Homo sapiens: one gene and its partner. The protein of the gene in region 2 purifies or fractionates together with the protein of the main gene of each other region. This does not show direct contact. Each region holds a gene or a part of one and is shown on either strand. Other genes may lie near its edges.

Evidence for each region.
Region 1: the proteins of SPATA46 (region 2) and CEP95 purify together in Homo sapiens (affinity purification with mass spectrometry; 2 studies listed by BioGRID and IntAct, with this or other methods). This does not show direct contact.

What each region holds. Positions count from the first base shown.
Region 1 is NC_000017.11:64,509,977-64,513,917, reverse strand, and holds part of CEP95 (centrosomal protein of 95 kDa), read right to left. Parts: intron 3,746-3,941; coding exon 3,638-3,745; intron 1-3,637.
Region 2 is NC_000001.11:162,373,436-162,379,229, forward strand, and holds the start of SPATA46 (spermatogenesis-associated protein 46), read right to left. Parts: upstream 3,420-5,794; 5' UTR 3,356-3,419; coding exon 3,253-3,355; intron 1,969-3,252; coding exon 1,855-1,968; intron 1,182-1,854; coding exon 613-1,181; 3' UTR 1-612. UniProt on the Homo sapiens protein: Plays a role in spermiogenesis and fertilization.

The DNA of each region.
Region 1 (3,941 bases), on a different chromosome or scaffold from region 2:
TACCAAAATATATTGCAGCTAAACAGAACTTTACCAGATTGGTGGGAAAAAGTGGCAGGAGAGAACACTTTCAGATTGTGGTATCCTATTCTAAATGGTGGTTTGTTCAGAAGATTATAGCAGCAGAGTAACATCAAAACAACAAAAAAAAACAATAAACTTGTTGGGATACTTTCATCAGAAATTCCTGAATTCTCCACCATAACCCCCCATATTTGTTAACTCCTCATTTTGTATAGATCATACCATTTTTCTGATTAAAATCCTTTCCCTGGCTCCCTTTCTGAAATATAAGCCCTGCATATAAAACCTTTTTAAATCTCACTCCATCTTCAGCGTCTCCAGCTACATCTCTTACCATATCCACTTCATATTCATAACTTACACTCATAGATCATAGCACAGTCCCTAGCACAGTACCTACTCCGTAACAGATTTTTAATATAAATGATTAGGTTGAAATGTTGAATAGAAATGGGTTGGCAAAAAGCATGGAAACTTGACATATTTAATGTCACCTGAAATGGACTCCAAATCAACCTCAGGTATAGATAGTACTTAACCCTTGTGACACTCTGATTGTCCTTTGGGAGATCATGCCTGGCATTCTCATGAGTTCACACCAATATGGGAAAAGCAGTGTAGAAATTTGACATTTGGGAGAATCTAGCCATTCGTAACCTCAGCCATGATGCAAAACAAACCTAAACCAGAAATTTGACGTTTTATACTACTACTAGTAACGACAACGTTTGAGTTTTTTCGTTTAAAACAATGAACCAGAAATCTTGGTTTTGGACGTGTTTTTCCGGCTTAAAAATACCTAAGTATATCCCAAGAGCATCCTCAAAACTTTTCAGTTTCTAGGATGGGGAGTATACTGACAACCTAGCAACTAAGACTGCCAGCCAGAATGCAGTGCTTCATGCTGCAGGAGAAACTGTTTTACAATTTTTCATAGGGTGGGTGTAATCTGTCAAAGACAGCTCTGCATTAAAGAGTTTTACAAACATGTATGTTTATAACCCTGCTATAGTATGTTTAACAAGCACAAATACCAGAACTTGTCCTACTTGGGTGATAAAGCAATTACAAATTGCAAAAAAAAGAGGGAAACTATGGGAGTAGCCCTCAAATTATCTCCGAACTGATTTACCCATTCACTCACCTAGAACTGCATTAAAAAACTTAAGACAGAAGAGTATTTTATTCTCTTCGCAAAAATTTGTTCTTGTCAGTATCAAATTAAGAGATGTAAATCAGGACTTATCCTGATTAACATTTATCTCCTTTTACAACTATCAAAGAATAAATCAACAGTATAAATCCTCTTTTTGTGATTATAGTTTCACATTGTCAATATTCCCTCTATTCATAAGCTTGAAATAACTTACTGGAATAATCATTCATTTCTAAACATAAATGAAATACACATAATACAGTGATTTATAAATATATTTGGTATGCTTAGTTTTAGAATACAGTATAGTATACTTTATTTTGGAGATTTAATTACAGAAAAAAACTTCTGAATAGATAACATGGTTCAAAATTCAGCAAGTGCAAAAAGTATACACTGAAAGTTCTTGTCCCTTTGTCCTGCAACCCTGAGGTTCCCTTTGTTGGAAGCAATCAGTATTACGAGTTTCTTGTATATGCTTCTAGAGAGTTCTTCCGATTGCAAACAACTGCAAATACTTCTGCACACCTTTGTTTTTACAAACACTAGCATACTACTCTGCACATTACCATTATAATTGTACTACATTTTTCTCGCATCACATATGCTAGAGATTGTTCCCAACACGGAACATTGTGCACAAAGAGCATATTCAGTCATCTTTTACAGCCACAGAGCAGTCCACTGTATGCAGCTATCATGATTTATCTAACCAATCCCTACTAATGGACATTTAGGTGTTTCTAATTTTTAGCTATCACAAACAAGTAGCATTAGTATGCTTTAAAATAAAACAATACGGCCAGGTGTTGCGAGAAGTCAGGGACCCCAAACAGAGGGACCGGCTGAAGCCATGGCAGAAGAACGTGGATTGTGAAGATTTCATGGACATTTATTAGTTCCCCAAATTAATACTTTTATAACTTCTTATGCCTGTCTTTACTGCAATCTCTGAACATGAATTGTAAAGATTTCATGGACACTTATCACTTCCCCAATCAATACCCTTGTGATTTCCTAGGCCTGTCTTCACTTTAATCTCTTAATCCTGTCATCTTGTAAACCGAGGAGGATGTATGTAGCCTCAGGACCACGTGATAATTGCGTTAACTGCACAAAATTGTAGAGCATGTGTGTTTGAACAATATGAAATCTGGGCACCTTGAAAAAAAGAACAGGATAACAGCAATTGTTCAGGGAATAAGACAGATAACCTTAAACTCTGTCCGTTGGTGAGCCGGGCGGAACAGAGCCATATTTCTTTTCTTTCAAAAGCAAATGGGAGAAATATCGCTGAATTCTTTTTCTCAGCAAGGAACATCCCTGGGAAAGAGAATACACGCCTGGGGGCAGGTCTACAGACGGTCCCCCGGGCGTGGCCATCTTTTATGGTCTGTAGACTGTAGGGCTGAAATAGACCTCAGTCTCCCATATCGCTCCCAGGCTTATTAGGAAGAAGAAATTCCCGCCTAATAAATTTTGGTCAGACAGGTTGCTCTCAAAACCCTGTCTCCTGATAAGATGTTATCAATGACAATGGTGCCCAAAACTTCATTAGCAATTTTAATTTCACCCCAGTCAGGTGGTCCTGTGATCTCGCCCTGCCTCCATTTGCCTTGTGATATTCTATTACCTTGTGAAGTACTTGATGTCTGTGACCCACAACCTATTCGTATACTCCCTCCCCTTTTGAAAATCCCTAATAAAAACTTGCTGGTTTTTGCAGCTTGTGGGGCATCACGGAACCTACAGACATGTGATGTCTCCCCCAGACGCCCAGCTTTAAAATTTCTCTCTTTTGTACTCTGTCCCTTTATTTCTCAAACCTGCCGATGCTTAGATAAAATAGAAAAGAACCTACGTGACTATCGGGGCAGGTTCCCCGAAGGCCAGGCACAGTGGTCCAGGCCTGTAATCCCAGCAATTTCACGAGTGGAGCCAGGTGGATCAGCTGAGCCCAGGAGTTCCAGACCAGCCTGGGCAAATGGCGAAACTCTTGTCTTTACAAAAAATAGAAAAAATTAGCCAGGCATGGTGGTGCACACCTGTAGCCCCGGCTACCCGGGAGGCTGAGGTGAGAGGATCACCTGAGCTTGGGAGGTTGAGGCTGCAGTGAGCTGTGATTGCACCACTGCACTCCAGCCTGGGCAACAGAGACTCTGAATCAAAAAATAAAAATAAATAAAACAACATAACATAAAAACAAAAAACACACCTCAAATTACCAGCTAGGATATTTACGTTTCAGACCCAGATCAATTGCAAAATCAATGTTCAGCTCTCCTGGAAAAGTTCTCATGTATGGACCTGACCTCTATCAGTTGATTGTCTTAGCTCAATCTTACAATTTGGTCTACTCCATAAGCTCACTCATTTGGTTAAGTAAACAATGTCTACAGTTCTAACAATTATTTTTACTAAAATGCATAATTATGTGATAGTTATACATATACCAACCTGTTATGTGAGACAAGCTGACCTGCAAGTAGTCCAAGGCCAGTGAATCAATTACTGCTTGTACATTGTGTGCATCATCTTCTTGACTCCTAGGAATAACTATGAGGTCTGGGGGGGGAAAAAATCACATAATTTTGTATCCATGAGAGGCCAAGTTTTCATCTCATTGTCTCTGACTAGGCTACTGAATATGCTCAACTGCTATAAAGGCTCTGCCCAAACAGAACATGCTGTAAAGTACAGATAAAGTTAATAAACCCTGAACTCTACACAGCAGAATCTTTACTGGTTGAGTATTTATTGA
Region 2 (5,794 bases):
GCTGTTCTAAGTGAATGATGGTAGTGCCTGAGAGCTCAGTCCCGGGTGAGCTCAGCCCCATCTGCCTCTTACCTGCCTTATACTCAGAGGCATATTTTCCTCCACATTCCCCCCTCAGAAGATCTACCGTCAAAGAAGCCTTTAAAACTGCAGAGATTCTTCCCCATGCAAATAGGAAAGGGCATCCAGCCCCTTCTTCCCAGGGTGGGGCAAGGACTGACCACATAGGGACCAAGCAGAGGCCAGAATCCTAGAGCAGTGCTTCTCACAGCTGAGCTGCATCAGAGTCACCTGGAGGGCTGGTTAGGACATAGACCGCCAGCCCCAGACCCATAGTTTCTGATTCAGTAGGTCTGAGGAGGGCCTGAGAGTTCCCAGGGGTTGCTGGTACTGCCAGCTGGGCACCTTTGAGAACCTCTATCTTAGATGATTTTCCCAAACTTCAAGTATTGTCTTTATTTTTAAAAGAGAGAAAGGGGAGGGTGTGTGCCTGGTGTTGCTAGGCAACCATTAGCCAAAGGTGATGAGAGCCGGGTTCTGGGAAGGACAGCAGGCTGTGCGGGGTGACCTCAGACTGGACAGAAGGCTGTGACTAACTTTATTGGCATCTCTCTAGAGACATAAGTAGGCTTCACCGCCAATTTGCCTAAGGTGTTCAGCAGGACTATTGAAGGCCTGGCAGCTGCCGGAGGAGAGCCTGTCTCCCAGCCGGGCCTTCTGCTCCTTGCTCCAGAGGGCTTTGAGCTTGCGGTAGTACACCTTGCAGCTGAAGCCCTCCCTGAAGCCCCTCTTGATGTGGCTCTTGAGGAAGTCCAGGGTGGGGTACATGCGGCAGCAGGCCACGCACTTGTAGCCATTCTGCTGTGCTGGGTGCCACCTGGAAGCCATTAGGATGTCCTGGGATGTGATGGAGTCCAGGCCATGCCTGGATTTCTTGGTGGCTTCTCGAGGGCAAGTGTTCTCTGGGGAGGAAGAGGACGAACAGATGTTCTCAGCCATGTCCTCAGAAAGGCAGTTGTCCCACTTGCCCTCATCCTGCTGCACCTCTGGGAAGTCATAGGCCTCCAGCTGGCTCTCTTTGTCTGCACACACGAAGTAGCTGTAGGGGGAGAACCAGGGCCGGTAGATAGTGCAGTTCCGCCTCAGCTTCTCTCCGTGCTGGGTATCCCCCAAGCTGCAGTCTGCAAAGGAAAGGACCAGGTCTGAGTCTCTGGCAGGGAGCAGTGGAGCCAAGGATGCTGGAGCAGAAAGGTAAGAAGGCAAACATCAGGCATGACCTCGGTTACCTCCACCCCACCACGATTGCAGTTCTGAGAGCAGACGCAAGACAGTGGTAAGAGCAGCCGAGGGCATTCCTTCTCACTGCATTCTTTTTCTAGGGGTACAAAGGGCCGTTGGATCTTGGGGCAGGAGAGGCTGCTTTTAGTTGGTAAGCCTTGGTATTTGTCGAGGCCTTCCCCTCCTGGAGACACCATGTCCACTGACTCCTCTAAGGATAGACACAGACAGGTGACCCAGCGGATAGCCAAACCGGCGGCCTCCCACAGTCCCTCTTTTCGCCACCCATGGCTGTGACCCTTTTTTCAGCCTCACTGCTCATCTTGATCCCTCCACGGCCCACTCAGCCAGAAACTGCTCTTGCACACCAGTTTCAGAGACAGGAGAGGGGAGGCAAGGCGAGAGCCCCAGGCCTGTGGGTGTCTACCAAAGGAAGAAGGGCCAGATAGGAGGCTGCAGGTGACAAGACCGCGCATGGGGGTCCAGCTTCCAGACACCTCTGCTTCCTTAGGGAAGCAGCCCCTTTTCATCCTTAGCCTCTCACACATTCCCGCCCAGAGTCAGAGAAGTCCTCACCTGGTGAGAGCGCTGTGTTCTGTATCCCTTGCCTGACAATGATGCTTTGGTACTGGGGTGGCAGGGCCTGAGCTGGGCTGGATGCCTCAGTGGGTACTGCTGTCTTTGCAATGTCTGGGTTATAGAAGAAACACTGGTGAGCTGAGCAAGGTTGGGATTCCACTTTCTGGGACTCCCCCAGGCATACCTAGGGGCTCAACCTCTGTACTTCAAGGCATCTCAACGCTGAAACAGAACAGTGACCTCTCAAACTCAGCCAGGCAGAGCTATTCTGGATGACATCCTGGGGAATTCTGAATGGGGCCATTTCATTCAGGCCTCAGAAAGATCCTCTGGAAAGTGGGATTTATGATGTAGCCCAGATGACACCTCTCCGCCTGGCCTGCCCCTCACCTAACCCTCCTGCATCTCATCACGCGGATGGCTTCACTCCGCATTGCCAGTCTCCTGAGCATCCTGGGACCCAGAGTCACAGGCTGCAGAGCAATGTTCCATGCCCGCTTTGAGGATTGTCCAGTTGAAACATCTCATACCCACAGTCAGGGTTCCCGTGGGCCATCACTGCACGGCACACCCTGGAGTGCTAACACTTGGACAAAAAGCTGACCTGCCTCAAATCCCAGAATAGCAGCTGTGTTCAGTTTGGGGGACAAATTTATAAATGTCATATATGTAGACAAATGGATGCTTAGGAGGCCTACTCCACTGAGCAGTACTTCTCCATTTTACTGTGCATAGAGATCCCCTAGGGATCTTGTTAATAACACAGATGCTGATTCAGTGGATCTGGGGTGGGAACCTGAGATTCTGCATTTCTAACAAGCTCCCAGACGATGCAGACGTTGCAAGTCTAAGGACCGTATTTTGAACAGGGAGTCCTCAGGGTGTCCAACTTTATTCCATGATGTGCTCATCAGTTTACGCTGCTGCTTAGGCTTCTCTGATTTGGCTAACTCCAAATCCTCTCCAAACTTGTCAAAACAGAGCTAAAACTAGTTTCTACTCTATGTAGACATACTGCCACCTTGAGATTTCATGCACAATCTAGGGGGAAAAACTTGATGATAAATGGAGACTGAGGCAGGAGAATCACTTGAACCCAGGAGGCAGAGGTTGCAGTGAGCCGAGATCACATCATTGCACTCCAGCCTGAGCGACAGGAGTGAAACTCTGTCTCAAAAAAAAAAAAAAAGTTTTCCCCTTTCTTCCCTTACCAAAAATCAATACACAGCAGTAACTACTTACCACAAATGCAGCATTTTGAAAAATTATTTTCTCCCCATGCGTAATTTGACTTTCTCACTAAATCATGGTCCTGTAACATGATCTGGTAGGGTACTCAATTAAAAGCTTCAAAAAAAACCACATCTTTGTGGCCCTAGTGGCACCAAAGTTTACCTGGCAGGCTGGTGGCACGAGAGAACATAATGTCGGGAAAAGCACTCAGGGCGGAGGAAGAGATTGGAGGTCCAGAGATGCTGAGGAGTGAGAAGTTCTCCATATTCTGACCACTGCGGGGGTACAGAGATCACACGCCTGCTCTGGAGAGGCTGGCTGGTTTGTCCAGAGGATAAACATTCTGAGCACAGTTGATGTCACAAGGCACATGATTCCACTACCAACTAGGTTACCCTTTGGAAGATGAATGGAGTCTACTGAAAGCAAGATTAAAATGTGTAAAGATTGTATTTGACTTGCCATTGCCCAGTGGCAGGCCCTGATTGACAATACCCAGAGAGAAGAATGTAGTAGAGATACTGTAGTGATGCTGTCTATTTGTCCCCTTTTATCTTTGTTATCATCAGTTTTCTGTGTTGACACTGTCTACCCCCAGCCCTCCAGCCCTGGAAACCTCTGTCCTGTCTGAATAATCTCCTTCCTTTTCTTCTCCTTTATCAGCCTAATCTCTGTCAGCAAATATTTTTATTGTTTTGTTTTAGTTTGTTTTTTGAGGTGTATATATTTTTCACATTTTCTTTGGAAATTCAAATTTGTAAAAGTTGCAGAAATTAGGCTGGGTGCAGTGGCTCAGGCCTATAATCCCAGCACTTTGGGAGGCCAAGGCGGGTGGATCATTTGAGGTCAGGAGTTCAAGACCAGCTAGACAAACATGGTGAAACCCCATCTCTATTCAAAATATAAAATTTAGCCATGCGTGGTGGTGGGTGCCTGTAATCCCAGCTACTTGGGAGGCTGAAGCAGGAGAGTCGCTTGAACCTGGGAGACAGAGGCTGCAGTGAGCTGAGATAGCGCCACTGCACTGCAGCCTGGGTGACAGAGCGAGACTCCATCTTAAAAGCTGCAAAAAATAAAATCAATACAAAGAACACCCTTATGCCCTGTATCCAGATTTTCCTATTAACATTTTACCCCATTTGCTGTATCCGTCCCCTTCCTCCTGCCCCCTGCCCCATGTGTATGTGTATATACTTAATTTTTTCTGTGAACTATTTGAAGGTAAGTTATAAACACTATGTCCTTTTATACCTAAGTACTTCAATGTGTATTTCCTAAGAATAGGGGCCAAATATTGTTTTCAGTGGTTGGTGCTCTTTTTAGCAAGTGACTAAAGCACAAATGGGTGGCTTACTCAATACTATTTTGCTCATTGCTTAAGTCAGTTTGATGGGGAGACTCTGGGACTCCAGAGAGGCAAGGTTGCCTCTTCGTTTCGCTTGTCCTATAACAACCTTGTGCACTAACGAGGTGTGGAATAAGGTGAAAGATGATTGTGACACTTGGAAGATAAGCTGAAGACACCCCTTTCTAGATTATCACAACATGTCAACTAGATACAGAGCAGGGCTGCAGATCTAGATGGCAGGTATGTTTATGCTGCATGGGGAGCTATGGCCGCTCTGGAAATAGTGATGGGCTTGTTTTGCAGTGCTGTCGAGCATGTGTGAGTGAGGTGTGAGTTAGCTTCTGCACGTGAGAGCCCAGAGTTGTCTTCCTGTGTGTATTTATTCACGGTACTGAAACATTCGAAGGACAATGGGAGAACATGATTCCCCTCGTGTTCCTCCCAGATAGCCTGGTTTGGAACATTAGCATGTATTGGAAAGTAAGTTGAAGCCACATACTTTGGCAGTTTGGGGGGTATCAGCAATTTCATTTGGTCCATTATGGTGTAGAGAAAGCTCATGAGTCTGGGCATCAGCTTATGTGACTTCTAACCCTGCTCCGCCATGAGCTACCTGTGTGATATTGGGCAAATCTCTCTGCTACTTGGTTTACCCATGTTATTAGTTTAGACTCTAAACTGGAATGGATGAACATCTTCCTGGCTAAAACCCAGTGACTGACATGTGGACAGTAGCATACTTGTGAGTGATGCACACAGGACCCCGAGGACTTGGAATTGCATTCTGTCTTGACCCATCACATTTCTCCGACTGCCAACTTCAGACTCTCCCACTGCAACCTCAGACTTAAAGTAAAGGGAGCTTAAAATACTGGGGGGAAATATGGGAGGCAGAATCTCTCAGTGCCTGTGTAGAGTTTTTAAAATGCGACCCGGTTTTGGTTTAGTCACTGAAAAGTTTGTGGGAGCCTGGCGGTTCCAGGGTGCACACCACTCCTCGTAGCAGGTCCCCTGTCTTGTGTGCTGTGTCCCCCCGAGGTATGCTGGTGCTGGTGGCCCAGGCAGGAGGTGACACTCTCAAAGTGACTGGTCACTACGTAAAATGTGTCTTTCTTTTGTTTGTTTCCCACCTGCTTTCCGAGCCCCTTTCTCGGACAGGTAAGATATCCTGTTTTTTTGTGGATGACTTACATCCCCAGATGCCCTCCTCTGCTTGGGTGTGTGCATGTTGGGGGGTACTGTTGGGAGGGCCACCTGGCTGGGGTCCAGTCATCTCTCTGTCCTCCATTGCCATTATTTTCTGAACCATCAAGCCTCTAGTCCTGAAGCAAGAGAGATAATGTGTGGGGGTCATTA